2 separate regions of the Homo sapiens genome follow, and region 1 is linked to region 2. The links come from fine-mapping of genetic effects on plasma protein levels. Region 2 holds a variant in brackets. A gene starts in the other region. All regions are shown on their forward strands.

Region 1 (5,391 bases), not on the chromosome of region 2:
ATCAACCAGATTTTCAAAATAAGGGACAAGCCAAGAATTTTTAAAAGATGTTCAAGCAAATATTCAAAATATTTTCCCTGTGTATAATTTCCCTATCTTTTAAAAAGTTACAATTAAATAAATATTTATTTCTACTTGGAAATAAACCCTCTTAAAATGGTAGAGAAAGAGCCATCTAGATAATATTAATATGATCTAGAACAAGCTCTCTTAAATGTATTTGAAGAAATTGGAACAACGACGTCTTTATATCAAACTTAAAAAGCTTGTTTTGTTGCAGACTAAGTGAAGTGGGGAATTGAGGAAGTCTGATTATAAATAGACTACATCACTGTCTTTCAGGGATTCTTCAGCTATGCTTTAGGCATGTATACATATAGAAGACACTACATTAGATATAAGAAACTTAAGATGTTTTATCTGTCCTCAATTAGGAAGAACATTTGCAAACTTCATTGTGTGAATAATTTGAACATTTATTAGAGAGATTTCTTGAGTCTTCTCTGAAAATTAAATCTCCTCTTAGGTTGCTATCTATTCAATTACAATTCTCTTAACATCTGGGACCGTCTAATTTTGGTAAGAATGAGCAGATGCTGGCAAGAAACCATCGAAATGAAGATAATATTCAATGTAAATATATATTATACTTATCAAGAAATGACTCGAAGAAGGAACCAAATTTATAGATAAGATGTGACTTGTTTAGCTATTAGTAGCTTATGTTTTATAAAAATGAAATATGGAATACATCCCAAACATATTTTTACAATTAAAAAACTAGGACAATACAAACAAACAACAACAACAAAAAATTAGGAGAACAAAACAGAACTTTGATAACCCAATTAGAAATTTATTTGGCATCCAAAAGACTACTTTATTTTATATCCAGAGAAAATTCTGAAGATTTTTATTCAAATGTTAAAGTCACACTTTAAAAGCTCACGCTTATCCTTAAACAAAGTAACTACTTATATAAGTAAACTGTCATTGTATTTATTGTAACTATGAGATAGTTTATATTAAGGAAGGCATTACACAGACTAGTGACAGGAGCTCCTAATTGAGTTTATTATCATGAAATATATTCATAAAAATGTAGAAGACATACTCATAAAATAAAAATATATAATAAATAGAAATCATAAACAATGAAATCACATTTCAGTTTACTTTTAGTCATTCATAGATTTTATAATCCTTAATATTTAATTCCCTGGTTAAAGTGGAACTGATGTTATCAAAATAATAGTTTTACAAGATTATAGGATGAGCAGAAAGTACATTTGCTTACTATTTCTATAATAGTAAAATAATAGCAAATGTAAAATATTTTGCTACAATTTAAACAAACATATAAAAAGTGAACACAAAGGGCAAAGGGGACACGCTCATAAATCACTGTAAATCAAATTAGAAAACAGGTTTTGTTTTTATTTACATAAAATAAACAGACCTCTCATTTGCCAGTTGTTACTGTTAAAGTTTTAGGTGACAAAATGTTGATTGAGAAAAGTATTTTGTTCAGGAAAAAGTAAGTTAACTACTAACTTTATCCCATTTAAAAAGAAAAAAAAAGGAAGACTAATCAAAGATTACTTTTACAGAGAGATTCAATAAACAATGCATTTAAGGGTAAGCCAGTATGAAATGTTTTTTCTTAGGAAACTCACTAAGAATATATATCACAGTGATTCCACACGTGCTATGGTCCTTTATACAGAGTTGAATAAATTCATTATTTTCTCAGCAGTTAAATAAACAAAGTCTGCGTTCCCTGAATAATAGGAAGATTTGATGCATGTGCCTGCTGGCTCACTTCCTCTGTCCCATTTGCAAGCTTCAGTAACTGTTCCCCACAGAGCACCAAAGGGACACAACAAACACATGAAGAGATCACTCTCATCCCACAGAATGAGCTTTACAGTAACTTGGATCTCTACACGAAGGTGTAAATTCAGAGCAACTTACCCGATTCTCTGCAACAAAGATGGCAAAGTTTGCAAGGAGTGAAAATCATGTAATACTTCGGGGAAATGCAGGATGCAGCTGCTGCTCCAGCCTGTAAATTGGACTGCACTGACATTCAGTGTTACTGAATGTAACAATCAACTGTTACTGACAAAGCTCGCGAGAGTTGGCAGCAGCAACTTGAAATCTGTTCAGAGGCTAATGGTATAAATGCAATAGTGATTCATTTACAGAAGTATTACAGGATTCATGCTTTACAATTGCAGGTAGTCTTCTAAGAATGAAGAAAAAAAGCATAGAAGATTCTTTAACTAAAATAATCTGAAATGTAACAGAAAATGCATGTTTCTTTTAACTCTAAACTTTAAAAAAATTTTCCTTTTTTTAAGAATATACATATTTCCTATGCTTGTCTTAAGATTTAAAGACGTATACATCATTCTAAAGTAGTGCTATTATTGAAATCCATTATAGCTTCAATCTGTGCTAATTATATAGTTAGAGAAGATAGTAATATAGAAAATAAGAAACACAATGCTCTAGATATAAGCTATGCAAATCAAAAACTTAGTTCTATTAACTGAATGGATGTCTCTGATATGTATCTCCTTTCAACCCCCACACTTCAACACTTATTTAAGTCATACAAATTTCAGCATTGGTAATTTCCTATTCAGAAGACCCTGCAGGCAGTCATACATGATGAGAAGCCACAATTTTCTGGTCAAGACAGGAAAAATAAAATGAATAACCTTCACCAAACTCTATAAAAGAGACACATTTGTCAACTTGCAGTGCACATGCTCTGGAGAATATATTTATGTCTTTGGCGCTTATCTTTCTTGAAATGATGTTCAGGAAAATAATTTTTTAAAAAACCTTTGATAAACTCCTTAATCCCTATCTTCTCAATGCAATATATTCTTAATCTTCTGTAAGTGATAGCTTTCACTTTTGAATCTCTTACTTGTGGGCTTTCTATGGACTAAACAGAAGGCATGTATTAATATTTGCAGGTGAGCACTTTTTTGCCTTTTAATAGAGTGTTAAATTTTCAAACAAGCAAATATAATTAGCATTTGTTGTAATTCTACCTTATGCCAGTCATTATAATTGACAATTTATATTAAATATTTTATATTATTTCAGCAAATATGAGAGTTAATATTATTAACCACCTCATCAGATGAGAAAGCTAAGGTTTCTACAAATCAGAAGCTTACTATATTTCTTACCACTAGTAGCTGTTGGAAAACAGAATTTTAATCTGTATTATTCTGTTATTTTATGTCAACTGCTTCCAAGAGAATAACCATTTTGGTCTTTTAAAATTATCTTTTCTGTGAAAATTGCTACTTAGGCAGTGTTAATTCAATGATAAATATCATGATCACAATAATTTATAATGTATTTAGAATATAGTTTATGTAATAACAAGTTAGTTACACAAAAGGTACAGAATACATAATCTATCTGAAAAGGAGAAAAAGGAGGTGGAGCACAGTGGTTCATGACTGTAATCCCAACATTTTAGGAGGCCTAAGTGGGCGGATTGCTTCAGTCTGGGAGTTCAAGACAAGTCTGGACAACATAGCAAAACTCAATTTCTGCAAGAAAATGGGTCAGACATGGTGGTGCAAGCCTACATTCCCAGTTACTTGGGAGGTAGCTGAGGTAAGAGTATCACCTGAGCCTAGGAGGTCGAGGCTGCAAGCCACGATTGTGCCACTGCACTTCATCGTGGGTGACAGAGTGAGATCCTGTCTCAAAAAAAAATTAATCAATAAATCAATAAAAGCAGGAAAAGGCTTTTTAAATGGAAGTATATTGACAAATTTGCAATGGTTTTTATAGTGATGGCATTTCTGTTTAAAATATAGTAAATCTGATGTTCCACATGAGAGTTCATGGGTTCAATATACATGATTTTTAAAAATCCAAATGTCAAAATTCTTCTCTCCAACCCAAGTCCACTGCATTGTTTCCTGTGCTAGCATAAGGTCAGCCTATCAAACGCGGCAATTATTAAGGAATATTTTGTGACGTTAGTGAATTCAGCAAAGCATTTTACATGCTTCCTGCATCTACTCACTGCTAGGTAAAATATGTCACATATATACACATATTTCATTTTCATCTTTAAACAGGAAGCCAAACAATAAAATAATTGGTTTCAAGCAGATCTTTATCTTTAACGCATGTTTAAACTGGCTAACTAGCAACATCAACTGATTACACAAGTTGGCAATTTTTCTTCTTCTCAATGTCTTTACTTCAAAGAACCACCTTCTGTTACTGTCCCTGTAGTTCTTTTCCTCGCATGATTTCACAGCTATGCCACATTAGTTCATTCATTATTTTAGTGCACCTCTAAAGCATTTATTCTTCCTGTCTTGAGAGTTTCTTCCTTGTGGCTCAACTTACAGCAGCTGCTTTGCTTCTGTGGTGTCATCATTTTCTCACACTCATCCAGCGGAAGGATGTAGGTCACACACAGTGAGCTTGTTTCAGGGTTAGTAGGGAAGCACTATTCCATTACATCACAGCATGGATGGTTAATGATCCTGCTGTTAAATGTTGAGTATGCCTTGTAAGCGACACTGATGAAATACCACAAGACACTTGACACGGCATTAACACTGCGCACATTTTGCAACCATATATGCTGAAGCTTGGGCAGGACAATCATTATGGTTTTGGCTCTATGATCACTTTCAGTTAGCCAGTCACAGTGGTTTTTTGCTTTTAAGGTCCCATTGTAACTCAGTTACCACTGTTTTCTAGATAGCAGCATTCAGTAAGATTTGAGATGGTGTGAAAAACATTAATCCTGTATTATACATTAGTTTTCCTTAGGCATACTGATGCCAAAAAAGTGCTCTAAACTTATATTAATTTTATTCATTTTTTTTACAATAGCACTGCATTCTCTGAAATGAATATGGATAACAAAGAAAAGTATATATAAGTATAGATAGATAGATAGATAGATAGATAGATAGATAGATAGATAGATAGATAGATTTTTTTTTTTTTTTCCTGAGATGGAGTCTCACTCTGTCGCCCAGGCTGGAGTGCAGTGGCAGGATCTCGGCTCACTGCAACCTCTGCCTCCTGGGTTCAAGCAATTTTCCTGCCTCAGCCTCCTGAGTAGCTGGGATTACAGGCACCCACCACCAAATCTGGCTAATTTTTGTATTTTTAGTAGACACAGGATTTCACTATGTTGGCCAGGCTGGTCTCGAATTCCTGACCTCAGGTGCTCCACCAACCTCGGCCTCCCAAAGTGCTGGGATTATAGGTGTGAGCTACTGCATCCAGCCCAGAAAAGTATATTTCTACATTTTACATATCACAGAGAATGAAAAGACCATTTTGTATATTCCAATCAATTTTTTAAAATATGTGTATGTGGTT
Region 2 (5,391 bases):
TCCGCCTGCCTCAGCCTCCCAAAGTGCTGGTATTACAGGTGTAGCCACTGTACTCGGCCACAGTTTTCATTGTATGCATCTACCAGAATTTATTTAAACCAGACATTCTATTAATGAATATTTAGGTTTGTTCCTATTATTTTGTTGCACAGTGGGCAGATCTTATGTAAATGTATTCCTAAAGGCTGAGGAAGCTGACAGACCAAAGAGGCTGATAAATCCAGTGTCTCACATTTAATAGGGATTTATGAACAGAAACCATCATCTCAGCAGGAGATAGTAGATCCTGGGCCATTACCCCCCAGACCCAGGGCTTCTATACCCTAGAGAAGGAATGTGTAGGATAATTGAAGTTGGCCCCTTAGGGAAAGGCAAGAATGCTATGTGAATCTGCCTAAGGGCAGGATTTATGGTCAAGGTTGTTTTGATCTAAGTGCAGAATTTATGGTAAGTACATGCTCTTACACAAGGAACAGTAGATAAAATAGAAATCTTAGAGGTATTCCCGGAACTGGGATTAATCAGAAGTCAACATGGTGGATTAGCATGTAAGATGGAGTTGCTTTAACCTGCACATCTTTGCTATTACAAATAGTGCTATTATATATATATAAAATATGATTTATATATGATATATATATAAAAGTGTGAATAATCTTGCTGTTTTCTTTTATGATTTAATTTTTCAGTCTATAAGATTGAACATATGTCATTTTGTTTATACATGTGTTATAGATTGAGTATTTGTGTTCCCCCATCAAATACGCTGAAGCCTTAACTCCCAGTATGACTCTATTGGGAGATAGGGCCCGTGAGGAGGTAATAAAGGTTAAATGAGGGCATAATGGTGAGGCCCTGACCCATTAGGCCTGGTACCCTTATAAGAAAAGCAAGAGACATCAGAGATCTTTCTCTGCCATGTGAGGACACAGTGAGAAAGTGGCTGTCTGTAAGCCAGGAAGACATCCTTTACCAGGAACCAAATCAGCCAGCACCTTCATCTTGAACTTCCTGGCATCCAGAACTATAAGGAATAAATTTATGTTGTTTAAGTCACCCAGTCTTTGGTATTTTGTTATGGCAGCCTGAGCTTACTAGTACAGTAAGCATATCTGAAGGCTAAAATTGCCAGAAATAGAAACATGTAATCACTAGGTCAAGAGGTGAGTGCATTTACAAATTTGATAGGTGTTGCCGAATTACTGAATGAAAGGGATACCCACTTTAATTCCCTTCAGCAGTATACAGTAGTGCATGTTTACCCACAGCTTCACCATCAAGTTGTTTTCAAACTTAGTTTTTTCCCCTAAACTGAAAGGTGAAAGTGATTATTTTATATTCTTAACCTAGTTTATTTACCAAGGAAATAACTCTATTACTATTGTAAATTGAATGCTAGCATATTTTCACATATAGAATGTAACTGTCAGAATAAAAACAAAAAATACTATTAAATTTGTGCTGAATGTTGTTGCCTATAGAAAGGTCTGAGTCTGAGATGTGTTCTTTCTTGTTAAAAAGAGAAATCAGGAAGTTTAAAGGGATGTTAATGACAGGTTGAAACTGAGGCTTCTTGTTGATGTAATCCAACAGTGGAAATCAGTCTGACTGTGGTCCCACACTCTCTTACCTTCTGCCATCCCGCCCAATCTGCTGTTGTGTAGCTGAGGCTATGTTGTGTTAGATAAGCCAAGGGAGCCATCAGCTAGGTGGTTCTACATGCATAACTGCAAAACCAGCCCAATCTGGTTCAACTTTGTGTTATAAAATGGTTACATTTCAGTTACCTCCATGTTGCAGGTAACCTAAGCAAACCCAAATGGACCAAATGCAACGCTGATGGAATCTAAGTGCTCAGACCAAGGAACGGGGACTGAAATAACAGTGGACACCACATGGCATGATCCAATCAGATTGAGCCCTGGAAAGATCATCCCATGGCAAGATCCAGTTAGATTACACTTCCTGGCATCACCTCATTGCAAGATCCAAGATCATGCCTCATTACCTTCTGCCTGTAAAACCTGCCCCAGCCCCCAGCTCCAGGAGACAGATTTGAGCCAGGCTCCTGTCTTTCTCTGCAGCCTTGCAATAAACTTTTCTTTCTACAAAAACCCAGTGCTTTGGTGTTTGGATTTTTTTTTTTTTTTTTAAATACAGGGTCTTGCTCTGTAACCTAGGCAGTGGCACGATCACGGCTCACTGTAGTCTTGAACTCTGGGGCTCAAGCAATCCTCCTGCCTCAGCCTCCCAAGTAGCTGGGACTACAGGTGCATGCCACTGGGCCTGGCTAATTTTAAAAAATTCTTTTGGGAAGACAGAGTCTCACTATGTTGCCCAGGCTGGTCTTGAACTCCACCTTGGTCAGTTCTC[T/C]CACCTTGGCCTGCCAAAGTGCTGGGATTACAGGCGTGAGCTACCACGCCCAGCCATGTTTGGCTTTTCATTGCATGCAGTCAAACAGACCCAGTTCAGTTTGGTAACACACATAGCTGTCTGGATGGGCACAAGGAAGGCTTGATCCTGCTTACAGGCTCACTGGGTAAAAGTGAGCAGGTCCCTGAGGCTCACCACATGTTGGCCTTGTCCCAGTAAGGAGAAAAGTGCCTGCCTCTTGCACTTTCCCAGGGAGGAAGGTTCTGGAGCAGGAGTTTTACCCTAGTTTCTGACCAAGTGCCTGCTAATGGTAGTTTCCTAAGTCACATTTTTTAGACTTTTTAAAATTTAGTAGACTTTATTTTTTAGAATAGTTTTAGATTTAAGGAAAATTTGAGCAGATAGCACAGAGAGTTCCCATGTGCCCTCCATATATACATAATGTTCTGTATTATTAACATTTTACATTTGTGTGCTCTATTTGTTATAATCAATGAACCAATATTGATACATTATTATGTACTAAAGTCGATAGTTTCTACCTGATGTCTATTTCTATTTGAGGATCTCATCCAGGGTACCACAGTACATTGACTTGTGGTGCCTCCTCAGATTCCTCTTGGCTGTGACAGTTTCTCAGACTTTTCTTGGTTTTAATGATCTTGACAGTTTTGAGTAGCACTGGCTGGGTATTTTGTAGGAAGCCCCTTTATGGGAATTAGTCTGATGTTTTGTTTCATGATTAGCCTGGGGTTTTGGGTTTTTGGGAAGAGGACCTCAGGTAAAGTGCCATTCTAATGACATCATATCAAAGGCACATGTTACCAACATGATTTATCACTTTTACGTTGACCTTGATCACCTGGTTCAGCAGTGTTTATCTGGTTTCTCCACTGTTAAGGTACTCTTTCCCCACTTTCCTACTCTTTAGAAGGAAGTCACTCTGCCCAGCCCACATGTAAGGAATGGAGAGTTATGTTCCCTCTTCTGGAGGGTACAATATCTACATCAATTATTTAGGATTCTCCTATAGGATTTTTTTTTCTCTTTCCATTTATTCAGTTACTTATATCAGTATGGATATTTATTTTACATTATTTTTGGGTTACAAATCAACACTACTTCATTTTATTGCTTAATTTTTTCCAGCTTTGTTCATTGGTAGCTCTTTCAGTTGGCTCCTGCATCCCTTTGACATATCCCCATTATGGTACGATTTTTTTTTTTTTGAGGCAGAGTCTCGCTCTGTCGCCCAGGCTGGAGTGCAGTGGCTCGATCTTGGCTCACTGCAAGCTCCGCCTCCTGGGTTCATGCCATTCTCCTGCCTCAGCCTCCGGAATAGCTGGGACTACAGGCGCCTGCCACCACGCCTGGCTAATTTTTTGTGTTTTTAGTAGAGAAGGGGTTTCACCGTGTTAGCCAGGATGGTCTCGATCTCCTGACATCATGATCCGCCCGCCTCGGTCTCCCAAAGTGTTGGGATTATAGGCGTGAGCCACAGCGCCCGGCCCATTTTGTTTTGTTTTTTAAGACAGCATACATCTGTTGCCCAGGCTGAAATGCAGTGGCACAATCATAGCTCACTGCAACCTCAAACTCCTGTGCTCAAGTGAACCCTCCTTCCTCAGCCTCCTGAGTAGCTGGGACTACAGGCATGCACCACCGCACCTGGCTAATTAAAAAAAAATTGGGGGCCGGGCATGGTGGCTTATGCCTGTAATCCCAGCACTTTGGGAGGCCAAAGAAGATGGATCGCTTGAGACCAGGAATTTGAGACCAGCCTGGGCAACATGACAAAACCTTGTCTCTACCCAAAATACAAAAAAATTAGCCGGGCGTGGTGGCACATCCCTATAGTACCAGCTACTTGGGAGGCTGAGGTGGGAAGATTGCTTGAGCTTAGGAGGCAGATGTTGCAGTGAGCTGAGATTGAGTCACTGCCCTCCAGCCTGGGTAACAGAGTGAGACCCTGTCTCAAAAACAAAAACAAAGAAAAGAAAAAGAAAAAAGAAAATTGCAGGGGGAGAATTATACATAATTTAGTGTGGTCTTGCTATGTTGCCCAGCAGATCTTGAACTCCTGGGCTCAAGTGGTCTTCCCACCTTGGCCTCCCAAAGTGCTGGGATTACAGGCATGTGCCACCGTGCCCAGCTGTATTGTAGGTTTTTTAAAAAATTCGTTGTTGATCACTTCTTTATTTTCTGGTATTTCAAGATATTCCAAACTCATTTTGTATATTTCTTGCTACAGTCCTACTAGAATCAGACATTTCTTCAAAGAACGCTAGTTCTTTTTATATTGGACAGTGTTACTAGAAACCAAGATCTGGATGCTAAGTGTACTTATAGCTACTGGGATGTTAAGTCACATTTTTAATTTGCTGAAAGCATTTAAGATTGCCTATATTTCTAGTCTCTCCTTAATTCCCTGATAATTCCTATTAAAACTAACTGGTCGCCTCACAGTTTCCCCAAAAGCCTTTGGGGTTTTACTCTTTTTGTTTGTTTGTTTTTTAAGATTTGTCCTCACTTTGTTTAAATCCTTCCTGTCCTTCAAGCTTTAGGCCTCCTTCTGCCACCACCTCCCACCCTACCACCCAGTTTCCTTTTTGACATTGCTGCCTCTTATCTCCTGCTTCAGGAGGCTCCAGCAATGCAAATGCAACAGAAGCCTGATTTATTCTTGGAAACAGTTCCATGAAAACCAAGCAGGAAGGAATTTAGAAAGGAATATAGCAGCTATATAATATCTTTTGCCTCTATTTTTTTAAAATTTAGTTTTGTGGTTTGAACCCAGATAGCCAGACTATCAGTTTTATTAGGGCTTTTTTTTTTTTTTTTTTTTTTGTCTTTCCAAGATTCAGATGGAAGCACCTGGATTGAGTTTTGTGACTCACGGCCAGAGCTGAACTTTGAATCCTGTGCCCAAGCACTGTATTTGTGAAGCAGCAGGAACAGAGAGAAGCAGTGAAGGTGGGCGATGCTTTGAGATCACTTTGTCCAGACTATCTAGTTTTA

Direction of the effects. Positions count from the first base shown, and alleles are read on the strand shown. Strength reflects both the effect of a copy and how common the allele is.
For the plasma level of the protein whose gene starts at base 2,084 in region 1, allele C in region 2 goes with a higher level than allele T (weak association).

What was found. PIP is the chance, under the fine-mapping model, that this variant and not a neighbour inherited with it causes the effect. Protein levels are from antibody-based Olink assays in UK Biobank. Linkage for the fine-mapping came from a reference panel and not from the study's own genotypes, which makes the PIPs less certain.
Region 1: BCHE starts here. The variant in region 2 is fine-mapped to the plasma level of the BCHE protein (UK Biobank, PIP 0.96).

Annotation. Positions count from the first base shown.
Region 1 is chr3:165,835,340-165,840,730 of GRCh38, forward strand. BCHE (butyrylcholinesterase) reads right to left here and starts at 2,084. Exons shown (of 4, transcript NM_000055.4): 1 at 1,975-2,084. RefSeq lists an enhancer at 1,902-2,196.
Region 2 is chr2:216,527,470-216,532,860 of GRCh38, forward strand. It overlaps LOC101928156 (a long non-coding RNA gene), which reads left to right. Exons shown (of 3, transcript XR_923872.3): 3 at 1,801-2,114. Among named protein-coding and RNA genes, the nearest start is that of RPL37A, 31 kb to the left of the region's middle. The variant T/C (reference allele first, on the strand shown) is at 2,374.